2 separate regions of the Homo sapiens genome follow, and region 2 is linked to region 1. The links come from fine-mapping of genetic effects on gene expression. Tissue or cell type: anterior cingulate cortex. Region 1 holds a variant in brackets; the other region holds the start of a gene. All regions are shown on one strand. Distances are between the middles of the regions.

What was found. PIP is the estimated chance that this variant, and not a neighbour inherited with it, causes the effect.
Region 2: CLPSL1 starts here. The variant in region 1 is the best candidate, but not a certain one, in a credible set for the expression of CLPSL1 in anterior cingulate cortex (GTEx, PIP 0.64).

What each region holds. Positions count from the first base shown.
Region 1 is chr6:35,817,185-35,827,662 of GRCh38, forward strand. It overlaps LHFPL5 (LHFPL tetraspan subfamily member 5), which reads left to right. Exons shown (of 4, transcript NM_182548.4): 3 at 2,253-2,279; 4 at 5,798-6,886. The coding sequence ends at 2,263. Among named protein-coding and RNA genes, the nearest start is that of LHFPL5, 17 kb to the left of the region's middle. The variant A/G (reference allele first, on the strand shown) is at 2,538.
Region 2 is chr6:35,778,492-35,784,288 of GRCh38, forward strand. It overlaps CLPSL1 (colipase like 1), which reads left to right and starts at 2,528. Exons shown (of 3, transcript NM_001010886.5): 1 at 2,528-2,718. The coding sequence starts at 2,620. CLPSL2 (colipase like 2) reads left to right here. Exons shown (of 3, transcript NM_207409.4): 3 at 864-1,061. The coding sequence ends at 959. RefSeq lists an enhancer at 3,639-4,140.

The DNA.
Region 1 (10,478 bases):
GTGGTGGGCACCTGTAGTTCCAGCTACTCAGGAGGCTGAGGCATGAGAATGGTGTGAACCTGGGAGGCAGAGCTTGCAGTGAGCCAAGACTGTGCCCCTGCACTCTAGCCTGGGCAACAGAGCGAGACTCAATCTAAAAAAAAAAATCTTAAAAGAAAAAAATAGATAAATCAGCTTTCATTAAAATTTAAATTTTTTTTTGTTTCAAAAGACACCATCAAGAAAGTAAAAGGACAGCCCACAGAATGGAAGAAAATATTTGCAAATTATAATTGGATAAGATCTAGAATCCAGAATATATTAAGAACTCCTATAACTCAACAATGAAAAGACAGACTACCCAATGCTTAAAATGGGCAAGGGATTTGAATAGAGATTTCTCCAAAGAAGATATACAAATGGCCAATTAGCACACCAAAAGATGCTCAACATCATTAGTCATTGTAAAAATGCCAATCAAATCCACATTGAGATACAATTTCACACCCACTAAGATGATTATAATAAAAAAGGTGAATAATAACAAGTGTTGGTGAGCAAGTGGAGAAATTGGAACCCTCATTCACTACTAATGCAAATCTTTTGCAACTGCTGCAGAAAGCAGCCTGGCAGTTCCTCAAATGGTTAATCATAGAGTTACTATATGACCCAGTAATTCCACTATTGGGTGTACACACAAGAAAATTAAAAACAAATGTTCACACAAAAACTTATACACAAATGTTCATGGCAGCATAATAGCCAAAAAATGGAATACAATTCAGTGGTTTTTAGTATATTCCATCTCCTGATGAACAGATAAACAAAATGTGTATATCCATGCAATGAAATATTATCCAGCCATAAAAAGGAATGAAGTAGTAAGCATTGCTACCATGTGGATGAACCTTGAAAACATGTTAAATGAAAGGAACCAGACACAAAAGACTGGTTTCCATTTGTATATCTGTGATTCAATTTCTATAAAATATTCAAAATAGACAAATCCATAGAAACAGAAAGCAGATTAGGAGGTGGCTAGGAAGGAGGGGAAACAAGAGTGATTGCTAATGGGCACAGGGTTTCTTTTTGGGGTGATGAAAATGTTTTAGAATTAGTGATGATAGTTGCACAATCTAGTGAATATACTAAAAGCCATATATATATATATATATATATATATATGTATTTTTTTTTTTTTTTTTTTTTTTTTGAGACAGATTCTGGCTCTGTCACCCAGGCTGGAGTGCAGTGGCATGATCTCAGCTCACTGCAACCTTCACCTCCTGGGCTCAAGTGATCCTCCCATATTAGCCTCCCAAATAGCTAGGACTACAGGCCCATACCACCACACTTGGCTTTTTAAAAAAATTTTTTTTGTAGAGACGGGGTTCCACCATGTTGACCAGGCTGGTCTCAGAATCCTGGTGTGCACCTCAGCCTCCCAAAGTGTTGGGATTATAGGTGTGAGCCACTGCATCCAGCTTGTTAGTGAATTATATTAATTAAAAAAAAAAGGAAGTGCTGAGGATCTCATAGCATATATAAAGCACTAACAATGCCTGCACATTGCAAGTGATTAATAAATTAGTTCTCCCTTTTTTTTTTTGATGCCACAGTAGCAGATCTGATAGTTCTTTCTCCTTTCTGTCTTTCCAGCATATTCACTATTTTTTTTCCTTTGAGACAAAGTCTTGCCCCGTCATCACCCGGGCTGGAGTGCAGTGGCGTGATCTGGGGTCACTGCAACCTCCGCCTCTCATTTTCAAGCGATTCTCCTGCCTCAGCCTCCCAAACAGTTGGGATTACAGGCATGTGCCACCACACCTGGCTAATTTTTTGTATTTTTAGTAGAGACAGGGTTTCACCTTGTTGGCCAGACTGGTCTCGAACTCCTGGCCTCAAGTGATCCACCTTCCTCAGCCTCCCAAAGTGCTGGGATTATGGGTGTGAGCCACTGCATCGGGCCATATTCATTTTTTATATCACCCATCTGCCCAACCAATAACAGCTAATGTGCTTCAGCTGCCTAACAATGCCTTTAGGCACTGGAAGTACAGTGGTTAAGGGAAATCTAAGTTGGAGCTTATGGTCTGGTAAGGGAGACAATCATGCGATACAGTTACAAGCTGATAAATGATATGAACAAAAAAGTGCAAGCTTTCTTGAGAGTAAGAGGAATCTGATGTAGTTTGGAGATGGAGTAGTGTGCAGGAAATTATCCTAAAAACGAGACTTGGTAGTAACGTATACTGTTCTCTCCTTCATTACAGAGGAGGTGTGAAGCAGCTGAAGGGTCGGTGAGTAATTCTATGGGAGGGTGGTCTGCGTGCCCTTAGAAAGGCTGGGGCTCTCTGCTTCCTTACTGAATCCTCAGGCATCAGGACACCAGGGGCTGGGCTGTAAGGCTGTGATGCTGCTTGGGGAGAGAGGACCAACACCCCACTGGGGCAGGAGCTATTTGGCCTCTGAGACCCTCACTGGGGAGCAAACAGGAAGCCTTTAGTTTTACCTGTGTCTTTTTTTTTTTTGAGATGGAATTTCGCTCTTGTTGCCCA[A/G]GCTGGAGTGCAATGGTGCGATCTCGGCTCACTGCAACCTCCACCTCCTGGGTTCAAGCCATTCTCCTGCCTCAGCCTCCCGAGTAGCTGGGATTACAGGTGCGTGCCACCATGCCTGGCTAATTTTTTGTATTTTTAGTAGAAGCGGGGTTTCACCGTGTTAGCCAGGATGGTCTCCATCTCCTGACCTCAGGTGATCTGCCTGCCCCTGCCTCCCAAAGTGCTGGGATTACAGGTGTGAGCCCACGCGCCTGGCCTTACTTGTGTCTTGAAAGGCGGAAAAAGATCAGGGAAAGAAGAAATAATTTCAAACACAAATTCATGTTTTATGGAGCCTGGCACACAAGAACAGACTGTTTTTAGAAGTCATTATTGTAATTTGGACCCTTATTTTCAGAAAGAATTTTTAAGTGATTTGTAAGAAACATACTAGAAAACCTAATAAAATAGAAAATAAAAGTCATAGACAGAAAAACAAATATTCAAAAAAGCTATACTAATAGTATTACTGTCTTGAGTATTAAATTTAGCTCTGATTCCTCATAGCCGAGGCAAAAAGAAAAACAGTAAGTTAACCAGTTTTAATGTCTGGTTTAAAAAGAAGCGCAACATATTCATTTATCTTTTAAGTTTCCAAACATTTGTTAAATGTGATTTAACAAGAACATTCAGGAATGCATTTAAAAAAGAAAAAGAGGACCGGGCGCGGTGACTCACGCCTGTAATCCCAGCACTTTGGGAGGCTGAGGTGGGCGGATCACGAGGTCAGGAGATCGAGACCATCCTGGCTAACATGGTGAAACCCCGTCTCTACTAAAAATACAAAAAATTAGCCAGGTGTGGTGGTGGGCACCTGTAGTCCCAGCTACTTGGGAGGCTGAGGCAGGAGAATGGTGTGAACCCAGGAGGCGGAGCTTGCAGTGAGCTGAGATCGTGCCACTGCACTCCAGCTTGGGCGACAAAGCGAGACTCCATCTCAAAATAAATAAATAAATAAATAAAATAGAATAAAATAAAATTAAAAAAATAAAAAAGAAAAAGAAACCCTCACAACAGTGTTGCCTCCCTAACAGCTGCCTGGAGGACCTACAGCCGACCAGGCGCTTTCTGTGGGAAGGAGGGTTTAGCTCCATTTAAGCTGTTTTTATTTTTGCAAAGTGCCTTCCAATCCTTGACCACATATACTTTAAAAATAATCATACATAAAATTGTCACCTCCACCTCCTGCACTTATTAGAGCATGATTCTCAAACTTCAGCGTGCATACAGTCATCTGGGGATCTTGTTAAAATGCAGATTCTGCTGGGTGCAGTGGCTCATGCCTGTAATCCCAGCACTTTGGGAGACTGAGGCAGGCAGATCACCTGAGGTCAGGAGTTAGAGACCAGCCTGGCCAACATTGGGAAACCCCATCTCTACCAAAAATACAAAAATTAGCTGGGTGTGGTGGCATGCACCTGTAATCCCAGCTACTCAGGAGGCTGAGGCAGGAGAATCGCTTGAACCCAGGAGGCGGCGGTTGCCATGAACTGAGATCCCATCACTGGACTCCAGCCTGGGAGAGAGAGCAAGACTGAGTCTCAAAAAAAAAAAAAAAAATGCAGATTCTGATTCAGTTGGTGGGGTGGGTCTGGGGCCGTAGACCCTGCATTTCTAATGAGTTTTTGGGTGACAGGCTGCTCAAACAGGAATCACATTTTGCATAAAAAAGCATTAGAGCATAATCTTTGTGTGTGTGTGTGTGTGTGTGTGTGTGTGTGTGTGTGTGTGTGTTCTTGACACGGAGTTTCAGTCTTGTTGCCCAGGCTGGAGTGCAATGACATGATCTTGGCTCATGGCAACCTCCGCCTCCTGGGTTCAAGCCATTCTCCTGCCACAGCCTCCCAAGTAGCTGGGATTATAGGCATGCGCCACCACACCCGGCTAATTTTGTATTTTTAGTAGAGACGGGGTTTCTCCATGTTGGTCATGCTGGTCTCGAACTCCCGACCTCAGGTGATCCTCCCGCCTCAGCCTCCAGAAGTGCTGGGATTACAGGCATGAGCCACCGTGCTCGGCTCCCTTTTTTATGTTTTTGCAATATTTTTAATTTAGGTTTTTCAAAGCCAGAAACTCCACAGCACTGGTGTACCACAATTTTTTTTTTTTTTTTTTTTTTTTTTTTTTTTTTGAGACAGGGTCTTGCTCTGTTGCCTAGCCTGGAGTGCAGTGGCACAATCACAGCTCATTGAAGCCTCAACTTCCTGATGCTCAAGTCATCCTTCCACCTTAGCTTCCTGAATAGCTGGGACTACAGGCACATACCTCCTGCCCAGCTATAATAATTTTGTTTTTTTTGTTTGTTTGTTGAAGAAACGATGTTTTGTCATGTTGTCCAGGATGTTCTCGAACTCCTGGGTTCAAGTCATCCTCCTGCCTTAGCCTCCCAAAGTGTTGAGATTACAGGCATGAGCCACTGCGCCTGCCTGGTGTACCATTTTTTAAACCAGACCTTGGTTATTAGACATTTAGGGTTGCTATCATAGATAACAAAACTTTTTGCTTCTGTTGATAATATCCCAAGTGGCATTACTGAATCAAAGGGCAACCACACCTCTCTGTTTGCCTTTTTTTTCCTCACACTACATTTTAAAAGACCTAAGTTTTTACTTGAATGACAATCAGTACTATCTTACACATGAATGAGGAAATTTGCATGTCTAGGTAGAACTGAAGTCAAAATTTGAGCATACATAGGGAAGTGTTTATTATTTATTTTTGATACATAGTTTTTTTGTTTTGTTTTGTTTTTTGTAATTTATTTTGAGATAGCATCTCGCTCTGTCGTCCAGGCTGGAGTGCAATGGTCTGATCTCGGCTCACTGCAACCTCTGCCTCCCAGGTTCAAGTGATCCTCCTGCCTCAGCCTCCCAAGTAGCTAGGACTACAGGCACGTGCCACCACGCCTGGCTAATTTTTTGTATTTTTAGGAGGGACAGGATGGTGTTGATCTCCTGATCTCGTGATCCGCCCGCCTTGGCCTCCCAAAGTGTTGGGATTACAGGTGTGAGCCCAATTTTGGTATTTTTAGTAGAGACAGGGTTTCACCATGTTGGCCAGGCTGGCCTCGAACTCCTGACCTCAAGTGATCCACCCGGCTTGGCCTCCCAAAGTGCTGGGATTACAGGCGTGAACCACTGCACCCAGCCTATATTGGTTTTTAAAATGTCAGATTTTAAACTCTTGGAATCTTTTGTTCTTTTGTTTTTCTTATACCACAGGTCATCTATTTCCCAGACACAGGAAAACTAGGGAATCAAATTCTTCAGAGATAAGAACTTGTTCTTCCAAGTTTCCTTGTTCCTGGCTACTATAGGCCTGAAGCCTGAAGCCTTTTATTATAACACTAAAACTGGACAGTCTCCTGAGACAAGACCTCCTACTGTACTCTTTCTGGGGAAGCAGAACTGCAGTGACCCACTTCAAAGATATTCAGAGGCTGAGCGGTGCAGGGAGTGCTCAGTTGCTGGGGATGGGATCCAAGTCCATTTCTTAGTTCCACACAGCAGCAAATCGCTTCACCTTCTTGAAGCCTCTCCTCTGTAAAGCGAGAGGGCTAAATGGGTCCATCTCTAGGGGCCTTCCCTCCCAGGTCTGTGTCTGATAGCATACACACACACATATATATACACACACACACACACACACACACACACACACACACATACATACACACACACATATATATACACACACACACACACACACACACACACACTCTCTCTCTCTCTCAAACACACACAAATGCCCAACCAGCTCTAAGAGGGCACTGAAGAGGTGGCTGGACATGTGCTGGGTCATTTTTAGGGTGAGGTGTAGGGGGTCTTTTGCTTCTCCCTTCTCATATTTTGTTTTCTTATTGCTGCTCAGAGGGGGGTAAGGAATGGAGGGGCCATCAGAACTTGAATCCTTTAACATCCACCAGGAAGTTTTATGAAGAGTGGGTGATAGGATCTAAAATCTCTGCAGACTTTTTTCCTCCCGGGAGCCAAATATCACATTTCCTTATGGTGCCCACACTGACTCAACCAGAACTGGCTACCAGCTTCAGAAATGTGTTACTTATGTTCAAGTAATTTGTTATAGGAATAGATGACATTTTTTTTTTTCAAAAACTTTGGATTTGGCATATAGTCATCTATAGGGGGATTGGTTCCAGGATCCCCTGCAGATGCCAAAATACATGGATGCCCAAGTCCTCAGCTAAAAATAGCGTAGTATTTGCATATAACCTATGCACATCCTCCTGTATACTTTAAATCATCTCTAGATTACTTATAATACCTAATACAATGTAAATGCTATGTAAATACTCGTACTGTGTGGCTTTTAATTTGTATTTGTTGTTGTATTGTTATTTATTTTTGAGACAGAGTCTCGCTTTCTTGCCGAGGCTGGAGTGCAAAGGTGCCATCTCAGCTCACTGCAACCTCTGCCTCCCAAGTTCAAGAGATTCTCCTGTCTCAGCCTCCTGAATAGCTGGGATTACAGGCATGTGCCACCATGCCTGGCTAATTTATTTATTTGTTTATTTATTTATTTTTGAGACGGAGTCTCATCCTGTTGCCCAGGCTGGAGTGCAGTGGCATGATCTCAGCTCACTGCAACCTCCGCCTCCCGGGTTCAAGCAATTCTCCTGCCTCAGCCTCCCGAGTAGCTGGGATTACAGGTGCCCGCCACCACGCCTGGCTAATTTTTGTATTTTTAGTAGATATGGGGTTTCACCATGTTGGCCAGGCTGGTCTGGAACTGATCTGCTTGTGTCGGCTTCCCAAAGTGCTGGGATTACAGGTGTGAGCCACCGTGCCCGGCCTGTATTGTTATTCTTTACTGGCTTTTCTTCCTGAATATTTTACATCTGTGGTTGATTGAATCTGCTTAGTGGAACCCACAGATACGGAGGACCAGCTACTAAATGGTGAACCTTCAGTTGGCCTCCAAAGGGGAATTCAATTTAGGTAATAGTTCATTGTAGCAAAAGCCAAGACCAAAATCGATTCTTTAGGCTGTCCCCTCCCTGGGGGGTGGTGCATAAAAACAGGATTTTGTTGATTGTCTGCAGTGAACAATTCTGAGGAAAAGGTGTTTTTTCTGGTCCTTGTCCAGTTAGTTAGTAAAGAAACTACCTGGGTGTGCTGTTCTCTCATAGGGGAAGTGTGGGTAAAGAGCTGAACAGATGAATCTTGTTGCTTGATCAACCGATCAGTGATACAGGAACAGTTTTCCTATCTTTGGCTGTCAGCTGTGTGTTTGGCCAATGCACTGTGACAACCTGCTCAGTCACTAGGAATGAGTATCCCAGTGTTGTCACAGTTAAATTGGTGGTGGGAACTTCCATAATGGGATTTGATCTTGTCACTTGGTCCATGGCAGCTAGTTTATGAGAATGATCACATTTGTGTGTATATATATATATTTATATTTATATATATTTTTTGAGACGAAATCTTGCTCTTGTTGCCCAGGCTGGAGTGCAATGGCGCGATCTTGGCTCGCTGCAACCTCTGCCTCCCAGGTTTAAACGATTCTCCTGTCTCAGCCTCCCGAGTAGCTGGGATTATAGGCGTGTGCCACCACATCCGGCTAATTTTGTATTTTTTTTTTTTTTTTTTTTTTTGAGACAGAGTGTCGCTCTGTCACCTAGGCTGGAGTGCAGTGGTGCGATCTTGGCTCACCGCAAGCTCCGCCTCCCGGGTTCATGCCATTCTCCTGCCTCAGCCTCCCAAGTAGCTGGGACTACAGGCGCCCGCCACCACACCTGGCTAATTTTTTGTATTTTTAGTAGAGATGGGGTTTCACTGTGTTAGCCAGGATGGTCTTGATCTCCTGACCTCGTGATCCGCCCACCTCAGCCTCCCAAAGTTCTGGGATTACAGGCGTGAGCCAACACGCCCAGGCTGTATATATGTTTTGAGTGCAGTGGCGTGAAAACGGCTCACTGAAGCCTCGGCTTCCTCAGCTCAAGCAATCCTCCTGCCTTTAGCTTCCCAAGTAGCCAGGACCACAGGTGTGTACCACCACATCCGCCTAATCTTTAATTTTTGTAGACACAGGGTATCATCATGTTGCCCAGCCTGGACATTCATATTTTCTTTTGTTGATAAAATTAATTCACAGTCGGCCAGGCACGGTGGCTCACGCCTGTAATCCCAGCACTTTGGGAAGCCAAGGTGGGCAGATCACCTGAGGTTGGGAGTTTGTGACCAGCCTGACCAACATGGTGAAACCCCGTTTCTACTAAAAATAAAAAATTAGCCGGGCGTGGTGGCACATGCCTGTATTCCCAGCTACTCGGGAGGCTGAGGCAGGGGAATGGCTTGAACCTGGGAGGCGGAAGTTGCAGTGAGCCGAGATCGTGCCATTGCTCTCCAGCCTGGGCAGCAAGAGTGAAACTCCGTGTCAAAAAAAAAAATTAATTAATTAATTAATTAATTAATTCAGTCAGTATCTACTTTATGCAAGCTTGATGAATGACAAAATTTGACAAATTCTGTAGCTTAGTGACTTTTCTATCATTTATCTCATAATTTACTTTTTGAAGAGGTACAAAAAAAATTTCCAGAAGTCTATCCTTGGCCAGGCGTAGTGGCTCACGCCTGTAATCCCAGCACTTTGGGAGGCTGAGGTGGGAGGATCACTTGAGGCCAGGAGTTCAAGACTAGCATGGGCAACATGGCAAAAACCCATCTCTATAAAAATTACAAAAATTAGCTGGGTATGGTGGCGCATGCCTGTAATCCCGGCTACTTGGGAGGCTGAGGTGGGAGGATCACTTGAGCCTGGGAGGTTGAAGCTGCAGTGAGCCATGATTGCACCACTGCACTCCAGCCTGGGCAACAAAGCAAGACTCTGTCTCAAAAAAAAAAAAGTCTATTCTCAAAATATTTCACTGAAATGGCAACTTTAGTGGTCTGCAGAAGCTGCTAGGGGCTTAAGGTGCATCTGCCTATAACCCACACCTTGCTCAGCTACTCGGGAGGCAGAGGCAGGACAATTGCTTGAATCTGGGAGGCAGAGGTTGCAGTGAGCCGAGATTGTGCCACTGCACTCCAGCCTGGGTGACAGAGCGAGACTCCGTCTCAAAAATAAATAAATAAATAAATAAATAAATAAAACAAAAAAACAAACAAAAATCAGTAATGTCAGCACTCCTTTTATGAAGTCAACCTTATTCTTTTCTCACTCTGGCTTGCCTCTCTCTGCTTTGGGCTGTTCTGTAGAGTCAGTTATGGTGCTCGAGCTTCACTGACAGCCCTGAGTAGATATGGTCAAAATAGGAAGGGCCAGTCATTTATAGGTGAAATGTGAACCTGAAGAATATCCTCAGTGCTCATGACCTGACAATCCTGTTACCTACTGCTGCTTAACAAATTACTCCAGAATGCAGTGGCTTAAAACAACATACATATCTCAGTTTCTGTGGATTAGGAATCCTGACAAGGTTTAGCTAAGTGTTTTTGCCTCAAGGTTTCTCACAAGCTGCAATTGTGTTGGATCCACTTCCAAGCTCAGTGGTGGTTTGCAGGATTGTTTTTCACAGTTTGTTGGGATGGAGGGTCTCAGTTCTTTTTTTTTTTTTTTTCTTTTTTTTTAATTATTATTATACTTTAAGTTTTAGGGTACATGTGCACATTGTGCAGGTTAGTTACATATGTATACATGTGCCATGCTGGTGTGCTGCACCCACTAACGTGTCATCTAGCATTAGGTATATCTCCCAATGCTATCCCTCCCCCCTCCCCCCACCCCACCACAGTCCCCAGAGTGTGATATTCCCCTTCCTGTGTCCATGTGATCTCATTGTTCAATTCCCACCTATGAGTGAGAATATGCGGTGTTTGGTTTTTTGTTCTTGCGATAGTTTACTGAGAATGATGGTTTCCAATTTCATCCATGTCCCTA
Region 2 (5,797 bases), 41 kb before region 1:
GCCTTAGTTTCCTCATCTACAAGGAGAGGCTAAAGTACCTACCCCACCAGGCTGTTGGGAAGATTATGTGGTCCTGGCAAGGAGAGTGTGCAGTCCAGCATGGTTGTCACTCGCTTTTAGGAATGCAGGGAGCAGAATGCTCAGTACGCCCTGTTCCTGCCCACCTGGCCCTGGGCCCAAACCTTTCTAGGATGGATGGACCCAGCCTCTATGTCCCTGTGTGGGGAGTTGCCAATGCCCTAAGGAAGCAGCAGGGCCCCTACCATGGCCTGACCCTATAGCTGAAGTGGCTAGAGGGTTTTTATTTTTTTTATTTTTTGAGACAGAGTTTTGCTCTTGTTGCCCAGGCTGGAGTGCAATGGCGTGATCTTGGCCCACTGCAACCTCCACCTCCTGGGTTCAAGCAATTCCTCTGCCTCAGCCTCTGGAGTAGCTGGGATTACAGGCATGTGCTAATTTTTATATTATTAGTCCATGACCATGTTGGCCAGGCTAGTCTCAAACTCCTGACCTCAGGTGATCCACCCGCCTCGGCCTTCCAAAGCGCTGGGATTACAGGGGTGAGCCACCGCGCATGGCCTAAAGGGTCTTTTTATTATCACCACTTGATCTGCTCTATCTCATTTAGTCCTCACAACAACCCTATGAGGGGGGTTACTATTACTGTCCCCATTTGACAGATGAGGAAACCGAGCTGGAGAGGTTCATTGACTTGCTGAAGGTCACGCAGTTATAAGCTGTAGAGACAGCCCAGGTCTGTCTTACTCCAGGCCTGGTACTCTTGGTTCTGGTCCCCAAGAAGTTTAAGTCCCCATCCTTCCTGCATCCTGGTGACTCCCGATTCTCATACCCACTCCCTGCAGACCAAGGGAGCTACCAACATCATCTGCCCTTGCCGGATGGGCTTGACGTGCATATCCAAGGACTTGATGTGTTCCCGCCGGTGCCATATGATTTAGAGGAAGATGCAGGCTGGTCACTGCTCCCTTGGGGCCATAGGCCCTGGTTGCCACCAACTTGCTCCAAATCCAGCTCCTGAGACATTAAAGTCACTTCCTGTCCTTGGCCTCTGTCTGTACTTTCTGGGCGAGGGGACCTGGTGGAGATTGTACCAGTCCAGGGGGCAGGCAAAAGGGGAGACTGGAGGCATGAATGAGCTTCTAATGGGATTTGGCCCTGTCCGGAGGTCAGGGTAGAACTGCAGGAAGGGAATGGCACAGGGAGGGTGTGGTGGAGCAGGGGCTGGGTCTGGGAAAGGGCTGATTCTCTGGTTGGAGGGCTGTGTGGGAGAGACGGGATTGAGGAATGTACCTGGAGAGTGTATGTTGGGGTGCCTATGGAGGGGTGTGTGGTAGGGAGAGACTAGGTGGAGGTATCTGAATGTTTTGCGGGGCGGGTTGTGGGGCACAAAAGGGTAGAGATCATTAGAGAGTTGGTGAGAATGTGCAAAGTATAAATGCAGAAATGCCTGTGGTGGGAAAGGGACCTGGTGCATGGATGCCTCCGCTCTCTCAGGTATTGTCGGTTCACTGCATGGACAAAGAAACTGAGGCCCAGAGAAGCGACATGACTTGCCCTAGGTCATATCATTGGGGTAGCAGTGAGGCCTCTTTCTGCTGCAAGTATCTTAAAAACCAACTCAAATTGGTCTAGGTGAGGAGGGGATTTACTGGTGATGGGAAATGAAAGTCCAGAGGTCAGGCAACCCTTAGGTAGGGCCAGAGCCAGCAGCTCTCAGGCTGAATTCCTTCCCAGTAGTCACAAACATTCCAGGTGTCACCTAATAACAGGTAGGATTTATTGAGCACTTCCTATGTGCCAGACACTGTGCAAAGTGCTTTCTTTTTCATTTAATTAAAAAATTTAAGACAGCACCCAGGCTGGAGTGCAGTGGCTCGATCGCAGCGTACTGCAGCCTCAACCCCCTGGGCTCAAAAGATCCTCCCACGTCAGCCTCCCAAGTAACTGGGACTACAGGTGTGTGACACCATGCCCGGCCAATTTTTTTTCTTTTTCTTTTTCTTTTTTTTTTTTTAATAGAGACAGGGCCTCACTGTATTGCCCTGGCTGGTCTCAAACTCCTGGGCTCAAGTGATCCTCCTGCCTCAGCCTCCCAAAGTGCTGGGATTACAAGCATGAGCCACTGCGCCTGGCCCAAAGTGCTTTCTTAACTGTATTGACTCATCTTTTTGTCACAACAGGGCTATAGTAGGTGTTATAATTATCCCTATTTTACAAACAGGGTATCGAGGCTCCTAAAGTAAGGGTTGGAACTGAGACTTGAACCCAGACAATCCTGCCCCAGAGGCCAGGCTCTTAACCACAAATCCACCATGTACATCAATACTGTGCCTTTCAGAGAAAGAAAACATCTCTGTTCCACAATTTTCAGCAAACATCCTAAGATCGGTTCTGATTGGATTGGCTTAGTCTGCCTGAACTAATTATTGTGGTGGAATTTGCTGATTGGCCTAGCCTGAGTATTGTGCAGGATGGGAAAATTCTGACGGGGTTGGGTGCTGGTTTTACATGGTGTTCCCACAGCTGGGAGGACACCCACATGGTCGGCGTGCAGGATATTTCGCTGGACCCTAGAAAAGCCACCACGACCTGTGGGCCATGATGCTACCCCAATGGCTGCTGCTGCTGTTCCTTCTCTTCTTCTTTCTCTTCCTCCTCACCAGGGGCTCACTTTCTCCAACAAAATACAACCTTTTGGTAAGAAAGCTGGAGAGTGCAGTCACCTCCCCCTCCACTGTCCTAAGGCCTGTACTATTTGGGGAGGTGAGCGGGCATGGGGGCTAGTGTGGGAGAAGGCCAGAAGTGGGGGCAGCAGGGAGTGTTGGGTGGAAGATGTCTCGGAGGAAAGAGAGAACAACCTGGTCCTGGAAGCTGTGCCAGGGCAGTGCCAGGTGCTGCTGCCACAGAGGTGAATGTGAGAGAGCCCCCCTGCCCATGCGCACATGTGGTAAGGGAGACAGATATTCACTCATGCAACACATTTTTATTGAGCACCTACTATATGTAAATTATTTTTCTACATTTAGTGATAGGGCTGTGAGCAAGAAAGATAAAAATCCTTGCCCTTGTAGAGCTGTCACTCTAGTGTGTGAGGCAAAGAAGTAAAACATTACAATAGATGCTATTAATAATAGCATCTATCTCAGGTGATAAGCAAGGAAAGGGAAAATAAGAATCGAGCTGTGGGAGTGGTGGTGTGAGAAGGGTTTGCAGGTGTTTTTTTTTTTTTTCTTTTTCTTTTTCTTTTTTTTGGGACAGAGTCTTGCTTTGTCACCCAGGCTGGAGTGCAGTGGGGCAATCTCGGCTCACTGCAAACTTAGCCTCCTGAGTTCAAGCGATTCCCCTGCCTCAGCCTCCCGAGTAGCTGAGATTACAGGCACCCACTGCCACGCCCAGCTAATTTTTTTTTCTGTATTTTTAGTAGAGACAGGGTTTCACCGTATTGGTCAGGCTGGTCTTGAACTCCTGACCTCAAGCAATCCACCCGCCTTGGCCTCCCAAAGTGCTAGGATTACAGGCGTAAGCCACCGCACCTGGCCAGGGTTTGCAGTTTTAAATGGGGTGCTCAGGGAAGAGTTTACTAAGAATGTGAAATTTTAGCAAAGACCTAAAGGGAGGGAAGTCCTTCCTAACCGGCAAAGCAGGGGGGTCTCTGGGAGAAGAGCATTCAAGGTGGAGGGAACAGCCAGGGCAAAGGTCTGGGGGCGGAAATGTGCTGGCATATTCAAGGAATAGCAAAGAGGAGTAAGAGAGAGTGGAAATCATGGGAGATGAGCTCAGAGAGATAAATGGAACACAGTTACAATATTCTCATTTATTCAACAGTTATGCATTCAGCACCTGCAATGTGTAAGGACTTTAGTCCAAGGGGGCTAAGAAATATAGCAGTGAACGTGAGAGCAGAAGATCCATGTCCCAGAGCTGAGGTTGCTAGCGGGGGAAATAAATTATTTTTAAACATATAAATAAGATGATTTCAGAGAGTCATAAGTGTTGTGAACAAAGTACAACCAGGTGATGGGGACTGCTCTGCTGGTGTCCAGGAAGTCTTCAGCCTGAGGCAGGAGGGGGAGGCAGCCGGGCAAAGAGTGCAGGACAGGGTGCTCTGGGCAGAGGGCCAGCAAGCGCAAATGCCCTGGGGCCAGGCCAGGTGTGGATTCAGAGCCCCAGTGATGGCTTTGAATCCAGAGAATGGCATTGTGGGAATTATCTTTTAAAAAAGACTCCTCTAGCTATTCTGGGAAGAACTGACTTGAGGAGGTTGGGGAGGTGGAAGTGAGAGTGGGGATGGTGAGGGGGTACCTGGGGGAGGTCACTGGCAAGGATGGAAGCAGGGAGGCCGGGAGGCGGCTATAGCCAATCCTCCTTTCCTGCCTTATTTTCTTTATAGCACATAATCGTACATAATAGGATTATACATATATAATATAAATATTACTTATTGTTATGTATATAACATATGTGGTAAAAATCACACCTTACTAGGTGCTCAGATCTTGAGTTTACATGGAAATCAATGGATTCGAACCTATGCAGACCCCCTCATCACTACCGTCAGAACAAGATATAGGACATTTTCATTACCCCAAAAGCCTCACTCTTACTCTCCTAGTCAATAGCACCAAAGGCAACTGTCTCCTGACTTCCATTATTATAGATTAGTTTTGAACTTTGTATGATGAAATCACACAGTATGTACTTTTAAAAAAAAATTTGGGCCAGGCGCAGTGGCTCACGCCTGTAATCCTAACACTTTGGAAGGCCGAGGCAAGTGGATCACCTGACGTCAAGAGTTCGAGAACAGCCTGACCAACATGGTGAAAGCCCATCTCTACTAAAAATACAAAATTAGCTGGGTGTGGTGGCACATGCCTATAATCCCAGCTACTTGGGAGGCTGAGGCAGGAGAATTGCTTGAACCCGGGAGGCAGAGGTTGAACTAAGCCAAGAAAGTGCCATTGCACTCCAGCCTGGGCAGTAGAGTGAGACTTTGTCTCAAAAAAAAAAAGGGGGGCTGGGCGCGGTGGCTCATGCCTGTAATCCCAGCATTTTGGGAGGCCGAGGCAGGCAGATCACGAGGTCAGGAGATCAAGACCATCCTGGCTAACACAGTGAAACCCTGTCTCTACTAAAAATACAAAAAAAATTAGCTGTGCGTGGTGGCGGGTGCCTGTAATCCCAGCTACTCAGGAGGCTGAGGCAGGAGAATGGCGTGAACCTGGGAGGCACAGCTTGCAGTGAGCCGAGATCGCACCACTGCATTCCAGCCTGGGCGACGGCGAGACTCTATCTCCAAAAAAAAAAAAAAAAAAAAATCTGACTTATTTTGCTCAACGTTTTTTCTGTGATACCGTATCATTTCACTTATGTATCTCTTCCCTGTCTTCCCTCTCTAGAGCTGTGTGTGTCCAATAGTGCAGTTACTAGTGTGAACCCAAAATATCTGAGACAGGTCTCAGTCAATTTAGAAAGTTTATTTTGCCAAGGTTAGGGACACACCTGTGATACAGCCTCAGGTGGCTGGGGTGCACCTTGCTTTTTTTTTGTTTTTTGTTTTTTGGGGTATAGCTTGCTTTTATACACATTGGGGAGACATAATATGTCAGTCAGTACCTGTAAGATTTACATTCGTTTGATCTGGAAGGGTGGGACAACTTGAAGTGGGGGGCATGACTTCCATTCCAGGTCATAGGTAGATTTAAACAAATTCTGATTGGCAGTTGGTTGAACAGCTATTATCAGCAGAAGGGAATGTCTGGGTTAAGATAAGGGGTTG